Linked DNA regions of Homo sapiens. The protein of the gene in region 2 interacts with the protein of the main gene of each other region in a pairwise test. Each region holds a gene or a part of one and is shown on either strand. Other genes may lie near its edges.

The links. Proteins that work in one complex are often made in the same cells at the same time.
Region 1: the proteins of NTRK1 (region 2) and TPTE interact in a two-hybrid assay, tested with the Homo sapiens proteins (one study listed by BioGRID and IntAct).
Region 3: the proteins of NTRK1 (region 2) and SH2B2 interact in a two-hybrid assay, tested with the Homo sapiens proteins (one study listed by BioGRID).

Annotation. Positions count from the first base shown.
Region 1 is NC_000021.9:10,603,787-10,606,380, reverse strand, and holds the end of TPTE (putative tyrosine-protein phosphatase TPTE), read right to left. Parts: intron 965-2,594; coding exon 829-964; 3' UTR 665-828; downstream 1-664.
Region 2 is NC_000001.11:156,867,365-156,870,864, reverse strand, and holds part of NTRK1 (high affinity nerve growth factor receptor isoform 2 precursor), read right to left. Parts: intron 2,762-3,500; coding exon 2,616-2,761; intron 2,361-2,615; coding exon 2,218-2,360; intron 1-2,217. UniProt on the Homo sapiens protein: Receptor tyrosine kinase involved in the development and the maturation of the central and peripheral nervous systems through regulation of proliferation, differentiation and survival of sympathetic and nervous neurons.
Region 3 is NC_000007.14:102,289,755-102,293,531, forward strand, and holds part of SH2B2 (SH2B adapter protein 2), read left to right. Parts: intron 1-3,348; exon of another isoform or gene 3,349-3,433; intron 3,434-3,777. UniProt on the Homo sapiens protein: Adapter protein for several members of the tyrosine kinase receptor family. Involved in multiple signaling pathways. May be involved in coupling from immunoreceptor to Ras signaling. Acts as a negative regulator of cytokine signaling in collaboration with CBL.

The DNA.
Region 1 (2,594 bases), on a different chromosome or scaffold from region 2:
AAGGCTAACCAGTGTTTATAACGCAAAGATAACCTCCCTTCAGAGTCCCCCAAGCTTAGGTGAAGTTGGTTGTGAGCAGGAATAGTGAATTTCAAAATAATACACCTAGATTACTCTAAGAATATTTCTTTTCACTTCACTTACAATTTTATACAAAAGCAGAAGTTATTAAAGATTACTTATCTTCATATTTACCACCATCTTCTTACCCCAACCTCCATGTCTGTGTGTAATTAAAGGAAGCTTGTCAAGTAAGCTACCTATTTAGTGCTCGGAATGAAAGGGAGTGTGTGTTGGGAGTTGGGGGACTGCTTGCGTGAAACATTTCTCTCTTCTGGATTTAAAACTTAGTCTTGGTTGCCAATCTGTTAACAGACAGTTTGTAAATGAAGGGGAAGAAAAATATATAAATTAGCTTTCTAATAAATCTGAAATTACAAATGTGAACCAAAGCAGGGAATAAATACTTGACCAAAAATATGTAAGTAAGTGGGTGTTGGGGAATCACAATTTTTGAATATCTCAAGTTTTTGCTTTGAAAGTTCTATTTCAAAGTTCTTCAAAATGATGCCTGATGTTCCTGCATACTGTGTTCCAAATTTAGGTAAATACAAGATGGAAACTGTGAAGTATGTACCTTCAAAAAAGAAGAAAGACACTGACATTTTATCTATATATATGTAATAGATTTATGAAGAACATATATAAACATATATAAACATAAATAAATACTTCAAGGAACATTTAGGATAGATTTAGGATATATGAACATGTGGCAGGGTTGGAAAGAACATAATTCTTTCCCAGAAGGGGAAGGGGGAGCTATACTTAATCGGATCCAGCTACAACATCACTGGAAGTCATTTTCTCGCCAAAAAGTATCTCCACGGCAAAATCTGATGGATAAATTCTCCGTGCTTTTTGTTTATGTAGATTATCCAATTCATTTTTTGGTAGATAAAGCCTAAGAATAGAAAAAAATTATTACATTTTATATTGGGGCTCACTGAAAAGCCACACAGTTGGGTACCCACGTTAGAGCTGGAAGAAACAAAAAAAGAACCTCACCATGAATAGAACCTCAGCCCTTTTTTTGTGTCTCAGTTGGCTCCTTCCACCTTTTTACTGAGACATAAAAATACTTTAATCTTCAGCAACACATCAGTAACACATGCTGACTCTCTTAGCATTGCTTTATATGGAATTAATGACATCCAAGTTTAATAAAATATCTAAATTTCTCTCTGTGACAGAAATCAGTCAGGATAGACATGAATGAAAGCCCAGTAATAAAATACTATATCTCTTTTAATTTATGTGTGAGGTTGCAATTTTTTGAATTTTTACAATCAGACCTTGGAAATGACCTTGAGCAGTAGGATATAACTCCCACATGCTGAGTGTTCCAATAATGGAACACTAGGCATAAATTGGTTAACCCATTTATGCCTCGTGTTCTCAATGATAGAAGTTAGCATTTTTAGCTAAACAACAATCTCATAACAAAAACAGCTTTACCAAGTAGGATGTAAATTTAAATGTTACAGAAATCTTTAGAAATTTATATAAAATAAGAATAAAAGTGACCTAGCTTATCACTTCTCCAAAATGAACATAGTGTTTTAAAGGAAAAAAAAAATGGTATCCTTTAGCAAGAACCACTTTTGAGGAGCAGCATCAAATGAAGCTCCACCCAGGTCTCACTTTTTGAGGGTCTTTGCTCATGTTAGAATAAAAAGCTTATTGTTTGTATGCATCCAAAAAAAAAAACTTGTAAAAAATTTCCATCAAATACAAAGTTGACTCTATCAAAATCCATTAAATGTTTTGCATTGCAAGTGTGCAGACCAGAGGTTTAATTTCCTGTTGCCTTGCTGGACTTAAGGAATCATTCGATCCAGTTCACATTTGAAGAAAAGATTAGGACTGGATGTAACAATAACTATCAATTCATGCCACATATAATCATAGCCACTTCTTCAACTCTGACCTAAATCATTTAAAAAATATTTTGTCCTTTTGTATTGAAGAGTATGGTTGACACAAAAAAAGTCTCAATTTTTCACCATCACAAAACAAATGCTACTTACAGTGGAGAACTTCTAGACTGAGAAATGAGTTTCCAAATATGGCAGAAGGTTTTTTTGGAACAATAATCTCCAAATCCAATTAATAATTTTTCAGAAAGGTTTCCCAATTCAGTTATTAGAAAGCCATATTTGAATGGCTATTTAAATAGACTATTACTTAATGATATTTCTTAGCTGTATTCCTTAATACTGTGTCTTGTGACTTCTCCTAGATATAAGTGTGTCAGTCAGCTTTTCAGCTAGCTGAAGCCTCCCTAGGTCCTGCCTTCCTTTAGCACAAAAGTTGATGGTGGTTCATCATTGGTAAATCAACACCTACTGACAGGGACCTGACATATTGAAGGTGCTGAGCAGCCTCATATTGAACTTCTCTGGGAGGAATTTACTACCACACTTAAGATCTGATGATAATACTTTTGAACTCGTAACACAGTCCTATGGCATGGACCCTGAGGATACTGCAACAGTGGGTCTCAAGAACAAATGGATTTTTAAAATAACCAA
Region 2 (3,500 bases):
TTTGTCATGTGTAAGTTACATGATCTTACGACAATTCTTCATCTTGCTGAACTGTGGGTTTTTTGTTTGTTTTGTAAGCTGAAGAGGTGGACAAATTATCTTCTGACATTTTAGAAAGTGATTTTCACAAAATGAAAATAATGAAGTGGTGGATAAATCTCATTTATCCGAAAACTTTATAAATGTGGAATCCTCTGACCACATGCCAGAGGAGGTATGGTTTCCCCAGGCTTCCATTGGAATATGTGAGTTCAAAGGTTCCAGTAGAGTTTCCAGCCTTTTGTGCAAGCTCTGGGTTCCAGCCACTTCGAGGGGAAGCCCTGCCCTGCCCTCTGCTTCCCTTGGCTGTCCCATCCCCTCCAACTACTGTGGGGCCAATAACTCTTCCCCTTGAGCTGGTCTGCCACCCCTTATCCTCCTAACTGAGGGAGAGCAGCCTCTCTTCTCCTCCATTTAACCCATTTAGGGTGCAATTTTTTTTAAGAGATAGGGTCTTGCTTTGTTGCCCAGGCTGGTCTCAAACTGCTGGTCTCAAGTGATTATCCCTCCTTGGCCTCCCAAAGTGCTGGGATTACAGGTATGGGCCACTGTGCCCAGTAGGGAGTGACTTTTGTATAGGTAGTTTCTAGAAAACACAGATGGTAGCAAACATGTAAGTCTCCCAAAGAGAAAGCAAATCCTGGAATCACCCCAAACAGAGTTGATCTAAGGTCTCTCCATGCAGGGGTATGGCCTCTGCCTGGTCCCCTTTCTTTTACTCACTCTAGGCAGCTTTGCTCTCTGGAGCAGGGAGGAACTGCTCAGTGGCTAGTTGTCCCTCCACCATGTCTGAAGCCCCCTGCTCAGCGCCCCAGTGGCATCTCCCTCAACATGGTTCCAGGGGCCTCCAGCAATTCTGGGGTGGACTCTCCCACCAAAGTGAAGGCTCCCCAAATAAACACCATGCTCCCAGCCCCCCAGGCACACATTCCTGGTCCCTGCATATCCACTCCTCCTGCCCAGGTGGAGCCAGCTTTTTGGGTGGGCACAGCCCATTGTCAGCTGCCGTTGACCTCGTCAACAAGGCCGACTGAGTTACCTGTGGCTACTCTCATCGGCCCATCGCCAGCCTAAGGACAAAGGGTAAGGCCTGGGAAGATGTCCAAAGGCATGTATGGATAACAGAGATAGAGGCCAGAGAACGCCCAGGGGCAGGCAGGACATCAGAAGGCCATCATGTCCACCTTCTCAGCTTACAGATAAGAAAACCAAAGTGCAGGCAGATTAAGGGATTTTTCTGAAAGTCATTCCCAGAATTAATTAGTGAGAGAGCTGGAGCCAGACCTATGCCTCCCTTACTAATACGTTCATCACATGCCCAAGAGGATGCTGCTTCCAGAATCTCCAGAAAAAAGACCACGATACCCCCGAGAACTCATCCCGGATGCAGTACAACTGATATTGTGCCTCCTCCCTGGGTTCCAGTTTCCTTATATAGAAAAGTGATCTGCCGGGCACAGTGGCTCACACCTGTAATCCCAGCACTTTGGGAGGCCGAGGTGGGTGGATCACGAGGTCAGGAGTTTGAGACCAGCGTGGCCAACGTAGTGAAACCCTGTCTCTACTAAAAATACAAAAATTAGCTGGGCATGGTGGCGCGTGCCTGTACTCCCAGCTACTCGGGAGGCTGAGGCAGGAGAATCGCAGAATCGCTTGAACCCGAGAGGCGGAGGTTGCGGTGAGTCAAGATCGCGCCACTGCACTCCAGCCTGGGCAACAGAGCGAAACTCCATAAAAGGAAGGAAGGAAGGAAGGAAGGAAGGAAGGAAGGAAGGAAGGAAGGAAGGAAGGAAGGAAGGAAGGAAGGGAGAGAGAAAAGTGATGTACGGGAGGGATGGTCTGTTGGGTTCCTCTCAGCTCCAACATGTAAGGTTTCTGTGACCCTCTCCCTTGCAGCCAACACCATGTTCCCAGAAAGGGGTTCTAAGTCCTGGGGCTTCAAGTATAGCCTGGGGTCCCTGCTGGGTCAGTGCCCACCCTGAGGGTGTGTGCGTGCCCTGGGCTGCCCCAGAGCATAGGCCTGAGCCCTGTGGGTCTAAACCATCTCTGTCCGTCCCTCAACCTCAGTGTGCTCCTTATTCGTTGTCTCTTTCCTCCACAGTGTGTCTCTCTTTCCCCATCTTTGTCCCCTGTGCTCTGCCTGGACCTCTTGGGGGCTGCCAGCGAAGGTCTTCTCACCATCACCGTGGCTGACTGCTCCAGCTCTGTGAGGATCCAGCCGGCCTGCTCCAGGCCCCGCCCCTCCACCTGGCACCGCAGCAGCACGTCGTCCCCCACATCCACCGAGGCATTGGGCACCTGGACCTTCAGCGTGGGCACACCTGGCCACCCAGGACGCCCGAGGGCCAAGGGGTGTTAGAGCTGGGAGTGGCCCCAGAACTCTACTGCGGGGCTGCTCCTTCCCCCACCCTCCTCAATGACCTGGAGCCCAGGCGATGTCACCCCAGGCAGTTTCCCCCAGCCTTTGCCAGTGCCCATTCCCCAGGCCTTTTCAGTGCTTGCTCAGTGCCCTCTCCCTCAGGCAGGTAGGTCTCTTCCCCAGCCCCCTTACACCACCTCCCTCACCCGGCACCTACCACAGCTGGCATTGGGCATGTGGGCCAGGGGCCCTTGCCCATGACACTGCAGCTTCTGTTCAGGCACTCCGCCCAGTCCCTCCTCCTCCCAGCGCTGTAGCCAGCGCAGGGCACAAGAACAGTGCAGAGGGTTCCCCGACAGGACCCTGGGGGGCATGGGGGACACCAACAGAGTCAAGGAAAGGGCCTGAGGGATCACAGGGGATAAGAGGGAGCAGTTAGGCAGCAGGGAGGACCGTCTACAGGTGAAAGGGAGGACACAGAGGTCTTTCTCTCTGACTCCAGTAACAGGATGTTATTCAAAGAAATAGGCCATTGGGAGGCCGAGGCGGGCGGATCACAAGGTCAGAAGATCGAGACCATCCTGGCTAACACAGTGAAACCCCGTCTCTACTAAAAATGCAAAAACTTAGCCAGGCATGGTGGCGGGCACCTGTAGTCCCACCTACTCAGGAGGCTGAGGCAGGAGAATGGCGTGAACCCAGGAGGCGGAGCTTGCAGTGAGCCGAGATGAGATTGTGCCACTGCACTCCAGCCTGGGTGACAGAGCGAGACTCCGTCTCATAAAAAAAAAAAAAGAAAAGAAAAGAAAAGAAAGAAAGAAAAGAAAAGAAATAAGCCAGGCGCTGTGACTCACACCTGTTATCCCGGCACTTTGGGAGGCCGAGGCGGAGGATGGCTTGAGCCCAGGAGTTCAAGATCAGCCTGGGCAACATGGCAAAACCCCAACTCTACAAAAAGAAAAAATAACGTAAAAATGAAAGAAATCTAATGCAGAAAGTGGAAGACAAGACAGCTGACGTCTGAGGGATGCATGGGGCTCCCTCACCCCAGGCTCCCCAGGATGAGAAACCAGGCAAGGGCTCTCAGCATGGTGACAAGGAG
Region 3 (3,777 bases), on a different chromosome or scaffold from region 2:
CAGGGCCCATGTGAGAGTTATGACACTGGGGGAGTGGAAGGGGCTGAGTGTCTCAGGCCAAGGCTGGAGATGGGAGGGGGGAACCTCTGCTCTGCAACCCCAGAAAGGCAGGGTGGGGTGGGAGTAACCAGGGCCAGTGCAGCTGGAACCAGCTCAGCCTGTCCTCCACCTGCAGAGCCCATCCAGGAACTGTCCAGCACTGGGTGCTCCTGAAGGAGGCTGAGTCTGCCTCTTGAGCCCACAGGCCCTGGCTTAGCTTGTTGTCCTGGCCCCCACTCCCTGCTTATCTGACCCGCACTTCCTGCAGAGCCCAGCTGTGGATTCCCCCGCCCCCCCACCCAGCCGCTCAGAGTGCCCCATCCTCTAAAGGTGGTCATTTCCTTTCCTGAAACAGGGATTCAGTCTTCCCACTCTGCCCTTGGAAGCGGAGTTCCCCAGAAACAGGTCTCAGAAAGGGACCAGCCTGGAACTTGGCTCCATACCCCCCTTTTTTTTTTTTATTTTTTTGAGACAGAGTCTTGCTCTGTCGACCAGGCTGGAGTGCAGTGGCGTGCAACCTCAGCTCCCTGCAACCTCCGCTCCCTGCAACCTCCACCACCTCTGGGGTTCAAGCAATTCTCATGCCTCAGCCTTCTGAGTAGCTGGGGTTACAGGTGTGCACCACCACGCCTGGCTAATTTTTGTATTTTTAGTAGAGATGGGGTTTCACCGTGTTGGCCAGACTGGTCTCAAACTCCTGACCTCAAGTGATCCGCCCTCCTCGGCCTCCCAAAGTGCTGGGATTACAGGTGTGAGCCACTGCACCCGGCCTCCCCTCTTGTCCATTCTGCAGCCCTGGACCCTCCCACCTGGCGTCTGACACACAGTGGGAGCTCACCACTGCGTGGTGGCCAGAGCATGGTGGGTAGTCACCTCCCTCCCCAGAACCCCATTTCTTCATCTCTGCAATGGAGAAACAACTCTTTCTTACAGGGAAGATGTGAGGGGAGAAGGGTTTTAACAGGGGCATGGCCCACTGAAATGTGGGTTCTAGAACGCTGACCTTGGCCACATTGGAGGCTGGGTTTATGTGTTGGGGCAGTGGGTACCTCTGCAGCTGCCTGCCAAGAGCAGTTGGAGGAAAAGGGAATGAATAGAGCTGTGATTTTTAAACAAATTGCTTATTTAATCTTCATGACAGCCCCTTAAGTTTAGCACTGCTGTCACCTCCATCTTAACAGATGGGGAAACTGAGGCTCCAGAGTCCAAGGGGTCATTTCACTGGGTAGCAAGGCAGCTGGGATCCAAACCCAGACAGTCTGGCTCCAGATCTCAGACTTTTAACACTGTCCCAGCATGTCAAATGACCAGAGGTGGCCATAGGGAGATGCCCAGGCAGTGGGGCTCCCTTTGCTGGGGAACAACTGTCAAAGGCAACTGTGGGAACCCCTGGGACTGAGGGTCTGCAGACGCCGGTGCCAGCAGGGCTTGTCAAGCTTGGGATGTCTGCAAAAGCCGGGGGGCTCAGCAGAAGGGCTCCCACCCTCCCGTGGCGGTGGCAAAGGCTGAGCGTGGCATGAGAGGCCTGGGGTTGTCCTGGGTGCAGGGCTGTTGCAATAGCTGCCTCCAAGCGATGCTGCTCAGGCCGAGCCTTGGACTAGAAAGTTATCTGCACGGAAGAGCAGCTAGGGAAACTAATGCTCAGAACAGCCAAGACCACTAGTACCTAATCACCCATACAGAGGCATACAAGTCCCAAGGGCTCTGAATCCACACCTGTCCCCATCGCCAGCCAGAAGGCCCCCACCCATCCACTCTGCAGCAAAGTCACAGCAAGTTCAAGGGTTAAGTTAAGACCAGAAGCCATGCCTACTTTGCCTTCTGCCGGGGTGGTGGAGTGAGCTCAGATATTCTGGGAGGGGAGAGTTGGGGAATTCCAGCCACATCTGGCAGGAGGCCCTGGTTCAGAGCCTACCTTGTGGGGATGTGGTCTCTGCGGAGGTGAGCAGTAACACGGGCTTGAAAACCAACGCCCACGTATTCAGCAGTGAAGCAGAGACTGCGCTGTGTGCTGTGTTCCTGAATCTGCAGGGGAGAGAGAGACTCATACCTAGTCAGCGGGTGGGAGTCACTCCAGGCCGGAGGGATGACCTGCCCAAAGAGCATCTGTGTCCTGCCCAGGGAGGGGTGCAGAGAGGAGGCTGCAGGGGTGGAAGGGACTGCCCCACCGAGGCCAGGAGGGTGCTTGAGGAACAGCAGGATTGAAGGAGCCTATGTTGTCCAGAGTGAGGCTGAGTGGGCCAGGCCAGTGCTGCTAAGGTCCTGAGGACCCCTAAGGGCAGTGGACATGAGAAGGCATGGCTGGGCAGGTTTTCTGAGGATGGTGGAGGTGAGCAGAGTGAGGCCTTGTCTCTTGTGTCAGGCAAGGAGGTACCCCAAGAAGAGGCTGCATGAGACCAGCCTGGGCAACATAGTGAGACCCCCATCTCTACCAAAATATCAAAAAATTACCTGGGACCGGGTGCACTGGCTCACATCTATAATCCCAGCCCTTTGGGAAGCTGAGGTGGGCGGATCACCTGAGGTCGGAAGTTCGAGACCAGCCTGGCCAAGATGGTGAAACCCTGCCTCTCCTAAAAATACAAAAATTAGCCGGGCTTGGTAGGACGCACCTATAGTCCCAGCTACTCGGGAGGCTGAGGCAGGAGAATCGCTTGAACCCAGGAGGCGGAAGTTGCAGTGAGCCAAGATCACGCCATTGCACTCCAGCCTCGGCAACAGAGCAAGACTCCGTCTCAAAAAAAAAAAAAAAAAATTACCTGGCCATGGCGTCTTGTGCCTGTAGTCCCAGCCACTTGGGAGGCTGAGGCAGGAGAATTGCTTGGGCCCAGGAGTTCAAGGCTGCAGTGAGCTATGTTCAAAGTGCAGTGCACTGCACCCCAGCCTGGGCCACAGAGTGAGACTTTGTCTAAAAAGAAAAGGCCTCAGTTTCCCCATAGCGAATGGTTCATTGGGGGGTAGGTGGCACTGCCCACCCCAGGACATAGGAGAGAACCCTTAGTTCTGACCGTCTCCCCCTTCATGCACTTGGTTCTCTGACTGCTGCTCTGAGGACGGAGCTAAGTGAGGGTGCAGGAGGAAGGGGGGGTCTCTTGGCAGTGGGGCGCAGCCTTTTGAGGTGCTGCATAGCTAGTTTGACCTGTGGGACCACTGACCATCCCTCCTCTTCCCGGTGCTCCTGGCCTCCTGTGGCTGGGATGGTGCTGGGGAGGAGGTGGGGGGTGCCAGCTGGAGGTGGGCGGGGCTCCTGCCTCTCCCCGCCCCCAGGGCCACCGCCCACTGTGCCGCGCATCGATTGGTCGCGGGCCCATTAGGCGGGGCGGCGAGTCCGACTCATAAATATTTTAAGGAATGACCCGGCCCTGGGGTGCGGAATTGCTGCGCGGGCGGGGGCTGAAGACCGGCTTTTTTTTTTTTTTTTTTTTTTTGGTCCTCCAATTGTCAGCGCTATTTTTACCGCCGGAAAGCCGCCGCCCCCTCCCCCATGCCGGCTGGACCTACTGTCTAGCCGGGCTGGTGGCTGGGGTCTCTTGTCTGGGTTGCTGGTCGTGGGGTTAGGAGAGGCCGTGGCCTGGAAAGGCGATGAGCAGGGACTCCATTAGACTTCCCCTGCCCTCCTCGCTCCATCCCCCAGCACCAAAAACCACTCTGAAGCCCCCATCCCATCAGAGATGGGGAAAAAAAAAACACATTTTTTCAGGAGGAGAAGGCAGACAGCCCAGCTGAGCCTAGAAAAAC